Homo sapiens: one gene and its partner. The protein of the gene in region 1 interacts with the protein of each later gene in a biochemical or structural test. Each region holds a gene or a part of one and is shown on either strand. Other genes may lie near its edges.

What was found.
Region 2: of the proteins of RPS6KB1 (region 1) and PDGFRB, one has a biochemical effect on the other in vitro, tested with the Homo sapiens proteins (one study listed by BioGRID).

What each region holds. Positions count from the first base shown.
Region 1 is NC_000017.11:59,944,314-59,949,098, forward strand, and holds part of RPS6KB1 (ribosomal protein S6 kinase beta-1), read left to right. Parts: intron 1-1,092; coding exon 1,093-1,205; intron 1,206-2,237; coding exon 2,238-2,475; 3' UTR 2,476-3,273; coding exon of another isoform or gene 3,274-3,289; 3' UTR 3,290-4,785. UniProt on the Homo sapiens protein: Serine/threonine-protein kinase that acts downstream of mTOR signaling in response to growth factors and nutrients to promote cell proliferation, cell growth and cell cycle progression.
Region 2 is NC_000005.10:150,117,846-150,122,249, reverse strand, and holds part of PDGFRB (platelet-derived growth factor receptor beta isoform 1 precursor), read left to right. Parts: intron 1-209; coding exon 210-370; intron 371-927; coding exon 928-1,046; intron 1,047-1,239; coding exon 1,240-1,362; intron 1,363-2,126; coding exon 2,127-2,238; intron 2,239-2,683; coding exon 2,684-2,783; intron 2,784-3,397; coding exon 3,398-3,503; intron 3,504-4,399; coding exon 4,400-4,404. UniProt on the Homo sapiens protein: Tyrosine-protein kinase that acts as a cell-surface receptor for homodimeric PDGFB and PDGFD and for heterodimers formed by PDGFA and PDGFB, and plays an essential role in the regulation of embryonic development, cell proliferation, survival, differentiation, chemotaxis and migration.

The DNA of each region.
Region 1 (4,785 bases):
GCTGGTAGCCTAATAGTAAGATCCAAGAGAGAACTAAAATGAACAAAACTGCATTTTTGCCTATTACAACTGAAGGTTTTTGAAATGTTGATACTTATTCATCAAGAAAACACCAAATTCTAGCTGGGCAGAGATCACACGTGCCTATATAGTCACAGCTACTTGAGGGGCTGAGGTGGGAGAATAGCTTGGGTCCAGGAGTTTGAGGCTGCAGTGAGCTATGTTATCACCACTGCACTCCAGCCTGGGCAATATAGGGATACCCCATCTCTTAAAACAAAACAAAAAACGAATTCTGTCCAATCATTGGCGTAAAACCAGAAAGATCACAAGATCTGACTTTGATGCCAAGTCAGAAAATTGTTTTTACTTTGGTCTGATTATAAGAAACTGTTTTAGGGTGATAAACTTAATTGCTTATATGCCTGTGGCTAGAAACACTAGAAGTTTCTTTACATTTCTCCTAGTATTTAACATCTTTTTTTTTTTTTTTTTTAATTTTTGAGATGGAGTCTTACTCTGTTGCCCAGGCTAGAATGCAGTGGTGCGATCTCTGCTCACTGCAACCTCCACCTACCAGGTTCAAGTGATCCTCCTGCCTCAGCCTCCCGAGTAGCTGGGATTACAGGCGTGCACCACCATGCATGGTGGTGTATTTTTGTATTTTTAGTAGAGACGGTGTTTCACCACATTGGCCAGGCTGGTCTTTAACTCCTGACCTCAGGTGGTCTGCCCGCCTTGGCCTCCCAAAGTGCTGGGATGACAGGCGTGAGCCCCCGTGCCTGGGCGTATTTAACATCTTCATATGGAGCCTGAATTTTCCTGTTTTTTTTTCTATTCCTGTCAGTAGGGTAGAATTTTGTTTGCTAGCATATCAGGCTCAATGGAATTCTGCTTTCTTGAAGTGTGTGCCTCACGAAATGGCTGGAAAGAAGTTAACGGGTCTAAAAATGAGGTTGAGGACGTGGGAGAGTGTACACATTGGTGGTTTTAGGTGTGCATCATTGTGTAGGTATGTCAGACTGAACAACCCCATTCTCTTGAGATACATGACAAAATGCCATTCTGTAGTCCACTGTTACTGTCTTTCAGGGTTTTACATATGTGGCTCCATCTGTACTTGAAAGTGTGAAAGAAAAGTTTTCCTTTGAACCAAAAATCCGATCACCTCGAAGATTTATTGGCAGCCCACGAACACCTGTCAGGTATTTCACACTCTTATTTTCACTTTTTTTTGTTTTTAAACAACCTACAAGAGTGTTTGCTTAAGAAGTTTATGCCAAGTTATATAAATGAAAGACTGTCATACTCTCTTTGGTTGACATAAGCACAGCATCTATATCTTACATTGCAAAGGACTAGTCTGACTAATCTATGATGTTATATGGTTTACCTTCCCTCCCAAAAGTAAGCAGCCATACTGGCAAATGTCCTCTTTATCCATTCACTCAGCATTTATTGTGCACCAAGAGCACCAGCACTACATACTGCATGTTATGTGTGTGTATCTATATAGTACTATAATACAGGAATTGTCCCTGTCCTGATGAAGCTTACAATTTAGTGGGAAAGTCACAATAGACAAAGGATATACAAAAATATAATTACAAGTAGTGCAAAGTGCTATAATTTAAAAGGGGAAAAAAAGAATGTACTGGTAGAGAGCAGAGGAAAAACAAGGGGGCTTCTACTCACAGTGATCAGAGAAAGGCCTCCCTGGTGTAGTAACATCTAGCAGTGAACGGAAAGAGCCAGCCCTACAAAAATAGGAGGTATAAGAATGTTGCAGGCAGAAGAACAGCAAATGCAAAAACCCTGAGGGAGGAGAAAAGTTGCCCTTTTCCTGGAAGTGAAAGGGAAATCAGTGTTCCTGGAGTGTGTGGTGAGTGAGGAGAAGGGCAGAGGTTTGGAAAAGTATTTTATTTTAAATGCAATAGAAAGCTGTTTTGAGCAGGGGAGAGTAAAATGATATATATAATACGCATTTAAATGTATATATATCTCATTGAGGGTTTTGGGGGTCAGGTGTAGAGGTAAAGAGACCAGTTAGGAAATTCTAGCAGTTAATCTAGGTGGGGGAGAGATGGTTCAATTTTTGCCTTTGTGCTAATCCACGTGAAAATAAAATTAAATGAAAATAAATGTCATGTTACCCCACTCCCTTTAAACGTAAAGGAAATATGTCTTGTTGAGATGACCCTTAAGCAAATGAATGATAGCTCTTCCTTGTCTTAAAGCCCAGTCAAATTTTCTCCTGGGGATTTCTGGGGAAGAGGTGCTTCGGCCAGCACAGCAAATCCTCAGACACCTGTGGAATACCCAATGGAAACAAGTGGCATAGAGCAGATGGATGTGACAATGAGTGGGGAAGCATCGGCACCACTTCCAATACGACAGCCGAACTCTGGGCCATACAAAAAACAAGCTTTTCCCATGATCTCCAAACGGCCAGAGCACCTGCGTATGAATCTATGACAGAGCAATGCTTTTAATGAATTTAAGGCAAAAAAGGTGGAGAGGGAGATGTGTGAGCATCCTGCAAGGTGAAACGACTCAAAATGACAGTTTCAGAGAGTCAATGTCATTACATAGAACACTTCAGACACAGGAAAAATAAACGTGGATTTTAAAAAATCAATCAATGGTGCAAAAAAAAACTTAAAGCAAAATAGTATTGCTGAACTCTTAGGCACATCAATTAATTGATTCCTCGCGACATCTTCTCAACCTTATCAAGGATTTTCATGTTGATGACTCGAAACTGACAGTATTAAGGGTAGGATGTTGCTTCTGAATCACTGTTGAGTTCTGATTGTGTTGAAGAAGGGTTATCCTTTCATTAGGCAAAGTACAAAATTGCCTATAATACTTGCAACTAAGGACAAATTAGCATGCAAGCTTGGTCAAACTTTTTCCAGCAAAATGGAAGCAAAGACAAAAGAAACTTACCAATTGATGTTTTACGTGCAAACAACCTGAATCTTTTTTTTATATAAATATATATTTTTCAAATAGATTTTTGATTCAGCTCATTATGAAAAACATCCCAAACTTTAAAATGCGAAATTATTGGTTGGTGTGAAGAAAGCCAGACAACTTCTGTTTCTTCTCTTGGTGAAATAATAAAATGCAAATGAATCATTGTTAACCACAGCTGTGGCTCGTTTGAGGGATTGGGGTGGACCTGGGGTTTATTTTCAGTAACCCAGCTGCAATACCTGTCTGTAATATGAGAAAAAAAAAATGAATCTATTTAATCATTTCTACTTGCAGTACTGCTATGTGCTAAGCTTAACTGGAAGCCTTGGAATGGGCATAAGTTGTATGTCCTACATTTCATCATTGTCCCGGGCCTGCATTGCACTGGAAAAAAAAATCGCCACCTGTTCTTACACCAGTATTTGGTTCAAGACACCAAATGTCTTCAGCCCATGGCTGAAGAACAACAGAAGAGAGTCAGGATAAAAAATACATACTGTGGTCGGCAAGGTGAGGGAGATAGGGATATCCAGGGGAAGAGGGTGTTGCTGTGGCCCACTCTCTGTCTAATCTCTTTACAGCAAATTGGTAAGATTTTCAGTTTTACTTCTTTCTACTGTTTCTGCTGTCTACCTTCCTTATATTTTTTTCCTCAACAGTTTTAAAAAGAAAAAAAGGTCTATTTTTTTTTCTCCTATACTTGGGCTACATTTTTTGATTGTAAAAATATTTGATGGCCTTTTGATGAATGTCTTCCACAGTAAAGAAAACTTAGTGGCTTAATTTAGGAAACATGTTAACAGGACACTATGTTTTTGAAATTGTAACAAAATCTACATAAATGATTTACAGGTTAAAAGAATAAAAATAAAGGTAACTTTACCTTTCTTAAATATTTCCTGCCTTAAAGAGAGCATTTCCATGACTTTAGCTGGTGAAAGGGTTTAATATCTGCAGAGCTTTATAAAAATATATTTCAGTGCATACTGGTATAATAGATGATCATGCAGTTGCAGTTGAGTTGTATCACCTTTTTTGTTTGTCTTTTATAATGTCTTCAGTCTGAGTGTGCAAAGTCAATTTGTAATATTTTGCAACCCTAGGATTTTTTTAAATAGATGCTGCTTGCTATGTTTTCAAACCTTTTTGAGCCATAGGATCCAAGCCATAAAATTCTTTATGCATGTTGAATTCAGTCAGAAAAGAGCAAGGCTTTGCTTTTTGAAATTGCAACTCAAATGAGATGGGATGAAATCCTATGACAGTAAGCAAAAACAGAACCATGAAAAATGATTGGACATACACCTTTTCAATTGTGGCAATAATTGAAAGAATCGATAAAAGTTCATCTTTGGACAGAAAGCCTTTAAAAAAAAAATCACTCCCTCTTCCCCCTCCTCCCTTATTGCAGCAGCCTACTGAGAACTTTGACTGTTGCTGGTAAATTAGAAGCTACAATAATAATTAAGGGCAGAAATTATACTTAAAAAGTGCAGATCCTTGTTCTTTGACAATTTGTGATGTCTGAAAAAACAGAACCCGAAAAGCTATGGTGATATGTACAGGCATTATTTCAGACTGTAAATGGCTTGTGATACTCTTGATACTTGTTTTCAAATATGTTTACTAACTGTAGTGTTGACTGCCTGACCAAATTCCAGTGAAACTTATACACCAAAATATTCTTCCTAGGTCCTATTTGCTAGTAACATGAGCACTGTGATTGGCTGGCTATAACCACCCCAGTTAAACCATTTTCATAATTAGTAGTGCCAGCAATAGTGGCAAACACTGCAACTTTTCTGC
Region 2 (4,404 bases), on another chromosome or scaffold:
GTTCTAACTGTCATTTTGGTAGCCTCAGTGCCCAGCTTGGCCCAGCAGGTTGGTTGAAAAGTCTTGATCCACAGGCTTTCCTACTGGGATAGACTGAAGGAAGATGAGTGAGTGTGTGAGTGAGAGAAGAAATTCATGAGTGGCAAGGGGCAGGAGGGGAGGGGAAGGCAAAGCCTGCAGGCTCTCCTGTGATGCTCCTTTACCCCCAGCCATGTGTCCTTGACCGGGGAGAGCGACGGTGGCTACATGGACATGAGCAAGGACGAGTCGGTGGACTATGTGCCCATGCTGGACATGAAAGGAGACGTCAAATATGCAGACATCGAGTCCTCCAACTACATGGCCCCTTACGATAACTACGTTCCCTCTGGTGGGTGGACATAGTGACATAGTACCCCACATCCAAACAGGCTGATGCTCTTCACATGCCCAGCCTTGCCAAAAACCCTGAGAAGAAGGGAGCCTCGTGCCCATTTCATAGATGTAGAAATTGAGGCTAGCCACCTGGCCAAAACTGATCTGTAGTGGACCCCTAAACGGAAGCCCTGTTTATGGATCCGGAAACATGCGTAGAACCCTCAGGGAGGGAGAGAGCAGGGATATGGGAGGACCTGGCCTTTTGTCGTGGTAGGGAAAGTGATCTACTCAGCTTCAGCCCCAGGCTGGTCTAGTGTCCCTGAGAGGCAGGCAGGCAGGCCAGGCTGGGCAAAAGTGGCCCAAGGGCTAATGCCAAAAGGCCAATGAGGGCACTGATAAAGCAGGAGAACTTTGAGTTTGATATTAAGAAATCATTCTCCTTTTAGGGGAGACCTAGACGATCAGTAGCCACCTGTCTTGGACATTCAGTCTCCCAGGAGCCAAAGGGCAGGGGTCCTGTGGGCCAGAAGGAGATATAAGATAGCAGGTGACCCTCTGCTTCTCCTCTAGCCCCTGAGAGGACCTGCCGAGCAACTTTGATCAACGAGTCTCCAGTGCTAAGCTACATGGACCTCGTGGGCTTCAGCTACCAGGTGGCCAATGGCATGGAGTTTCTGGCCTCCAAGAACGTACGTGTGGTGTTGGTGGGGCAGAGTGGGGGCTGTGGGGAGGTGGGTCACCCAGCCAGCCAGCATCCTCCAAGAGCACACCAGGGTGGCCTCTCGCACATGGGCAGTGTTGTATTTTCCCAAAGCCCTTGACATGAAGGGTCTTTCCCCACAATTGTCCCCAAGGCCTCAGCTCCCCTCTCCCCAAACCCAGTGCGTCCACAGAGACCTGGCGGCTAGGAACGTGCTCATCTGTGAAGGCAAGCTGGTCAAGATCTGTGACTTTGGCCTGGCTCGAGACATCATGCGGGACTCGAATTACATCTCCAAAGGCAGCGTGAGTACCTTCCCTGGCCCCTGCAGGGCAGTCACAGTGCCTGTGACCGCAGGAACAGATTCCCTCCTGACCAGTGTGGCTGCAGCTCATAGGAAATCTGTGTGGGGCTCCTTGTGGCCTGCCCTGACAGCAGTGATGGGCTGTGCCTGCCCAGCTATGTGTGCAGGGACAGGATGGGGAGCCGCCCAGGAGTGCATGGAGCAAGTATAGCGGCGGGGAGGGCTGGCTATAATGGGTCCAGGGTGGGGGAAGGGGGAACAGGCCGAATGTGTTGTTCCAGTGGTGGTGGGCAGAGGAAGAAGCCCAGGTGACAGGGCAAGAAAGATGAGCAGGTCACATGCAGTAGCAGGGATTGGTCTGGTTAAAACGTGATCATCCTGCCTGTCTCTCATCTCCCCACTTTTCCGCAAACCCCAGATGGAGGGACGCTAGGCCCAGAGATCAAAGGCAGCCAGGATAAGAGCTTGGGGGGTGCCTTGACAAGTCCCTGGCTCCCACACTTCACTACTCAGACCCTGGGGCTTTTCCCCAGGGACAGGGGCTGCCTTGTCCCCAGCTAGTGAGAAAGGAAACAGCCTCTGGTCCTCTGACCAGCCCTGGGATGGACATGGGAACTGTGCTGCGCAGAGACCAGGGCCCTCACAGGGAATGGGACGGAGAAGTGGTTGTGGGTGGGAGCTGCCAGATACCCTCCTCCCATCCCAGGTGCAGAGTGGGGCTGAGGTCCTTCCTTGCACTCAGCACCTGTCCTGACCTCCCTACAGACCTTTTTGCCTTTAAAGTGGATGGCTCCGGAGAGCATCTTCAACAGCCTCTACACCACCCTGAGCGACGTGTGGTCCTTCGGGATCCTGCTCTGGGAGATCTTCACCTTGGGTATGCTTGCTTCCTCCTCCAGCCCTCAGCATCCTGGCCTGGTGTCTACCTCGACCACTCATGCCTCTGGCCTGGTGGGGCTATGGGACGAGCCCTGATACAGGGATCCTGGTTCAGGTCCCAGCTCTGCTACCTTCTCCCTGCTGTGTGATGTTAGCAAATTCTTTGCCCTCTCTGGGTCTCTTTATCTCCCTGTCTGAGCATTGACAGGTTTGAACAGTGACATCAGAAAGCCTGCTTGGCTCTCACATTCTGGCTGTCTATCCTGGGGAGGGTTGTGGTCTCTGTTCAGAGCCCATGAAGGAGCCCACAGTTCCAAATGCCAGGGGCACTGCCCCCTTACCCATACCAGGGCCAGCATGGCTCTCCTTGTCCTGTAGAAGAGGGTGCCCTGCCACTTTTCCACCCCTGAGCCTGTGTATCTCTTGTCTCTGCTCCCCAACAGGTGGCACCCCTTACCCAGAGCTGCCCATGAACGAGCAGTTCTACAATGCCATCAAACGGGGTTACCGCATGGCCCAGCCTGCCCATGCCTCCGACGAGATGTGAGTGGAGTCTCATGCATTTGGGAGGATTTTGTGCTGCAAACAATAGATATCCAACTCTACTGGCTTAAACCAAAGATGAGAGATTTGTTAGCTCAGAGATCTAGAAAGCCTTGGTGTAACTGGATCCAGCCATTCAAAGGATGGCATCAGGAACCTCTTGTTCTAGCCCTGAGCTCTGCTTTGCTCTGTGTGGCCTCATTTTCAGGCCAGCATTGCCCAAATGGCTACCAGCAGTGCCAGTCTCATGTCCTACTGCTTGCTCCATAGTGCCAGCAAAAGTCCCAGAGCTGACCTTCAAGGGCTCAGGTGGGGTCACATGCCATCAAGAACCAACCGTGGAAGCTGCAGGGCTGAAAACTGTTGGCGAAGGTTGGCTCCTGTGCTCACCCAGGCGTAGTCAACCTGTGGAACCATGTGGAATGGGGGCTCTGCGAGGGCCTCCCAAGGGAATATCCAGAGACAGGACCTCTGGATACACCCAGCCACCACTTCCCTCCAGCTCCTTTCCATGGCTCACCTTGTTCTGAGAGGCAGCAGCCTCCTGCTCCCCCAGCCCTGCCTTGTCCCCTGAACCCTGGGCCAGAGGCCCTGACCCTTCTCCCTATCCCCAGCTATGAGATCATGCAGAAGTGCTGGGAAGAGAAGTTTGAGATTCGGCCCCCCTTCTCCCAGCTGGTGCTGCTTCTCGAGAGACTGTTGGGCGAAGGTTACAAAAAGGTATGTTGAGGCAGGGTAGGGGTGGAGCACGGAGAGCTCTGGTGCAGAAGTCAGACACCGAGTACAAGGCTCTGCGTGATGGGCTGGCATTTAGGGGACCACCCTTTGTCCTCTCTGGGCCTCAGTTTCCCTGCTGGTTCTAGGAGGGGATGGGCTGGCGCTGTGAGTTTATTTTAGCAGCAGAGAGCTTTATGAAATGGAATCCTACATGGAAGCTGATCGATTAGATGCAGGGAGGGGGCCTAGAGCACTGTCTGTCCTGCTGCCTCCCTCAGGCCTTTACCTCCATACCGAACCGTGGGGCTCCTTCAGAAGTGTGAATAACCCCAGGTTACATGACCATGAACCGCCTGACCACTTGGATCCTGTCACAGGATTGTCCAAGGCCCAAAGAGCCAGTAGGGCCCTGAAACCCTGCCCCGTCCAACAACACGGGTCCAAGTGAGGAGGAAATACACATGGCCTTTGACACAGAGGCAGCTCCTTCTTTGGGTCCATTTCTCACCCCCACTGCCCCCCGGGGATGGTCCCAGGGACCTGGGAGATGGAGTAAGGTCATCACCACTTCACAGCAAAGGAAACTGAGGCCCTGAAGAAGGACGCTGAGGCAGCATGAGAGCCTGTGCCTGTCTGCTCTGAAGTGGGGGAAGAGTTAGAGTCCTGGGTGCTGGTCTGATAACTGCCCCTCCCTGGGTGGTCCTGAGCTCACCATGCCTTGTAAGATTCTATGTGAGGTAGGAGGGCAGCTCAACCATGTGGCTTGGGCAAATCCCTTTCCCCTCTGAGCAGCGGGGGTCTTATTTATACAAAGGGGGATGGGCTCGGTTAGAAGATCCCTGAAGGCATTTCTGGCCTGACCATCCCTGTTTCTTTGGTTCTCCCTGCCCCGGGAGCAGAAGTA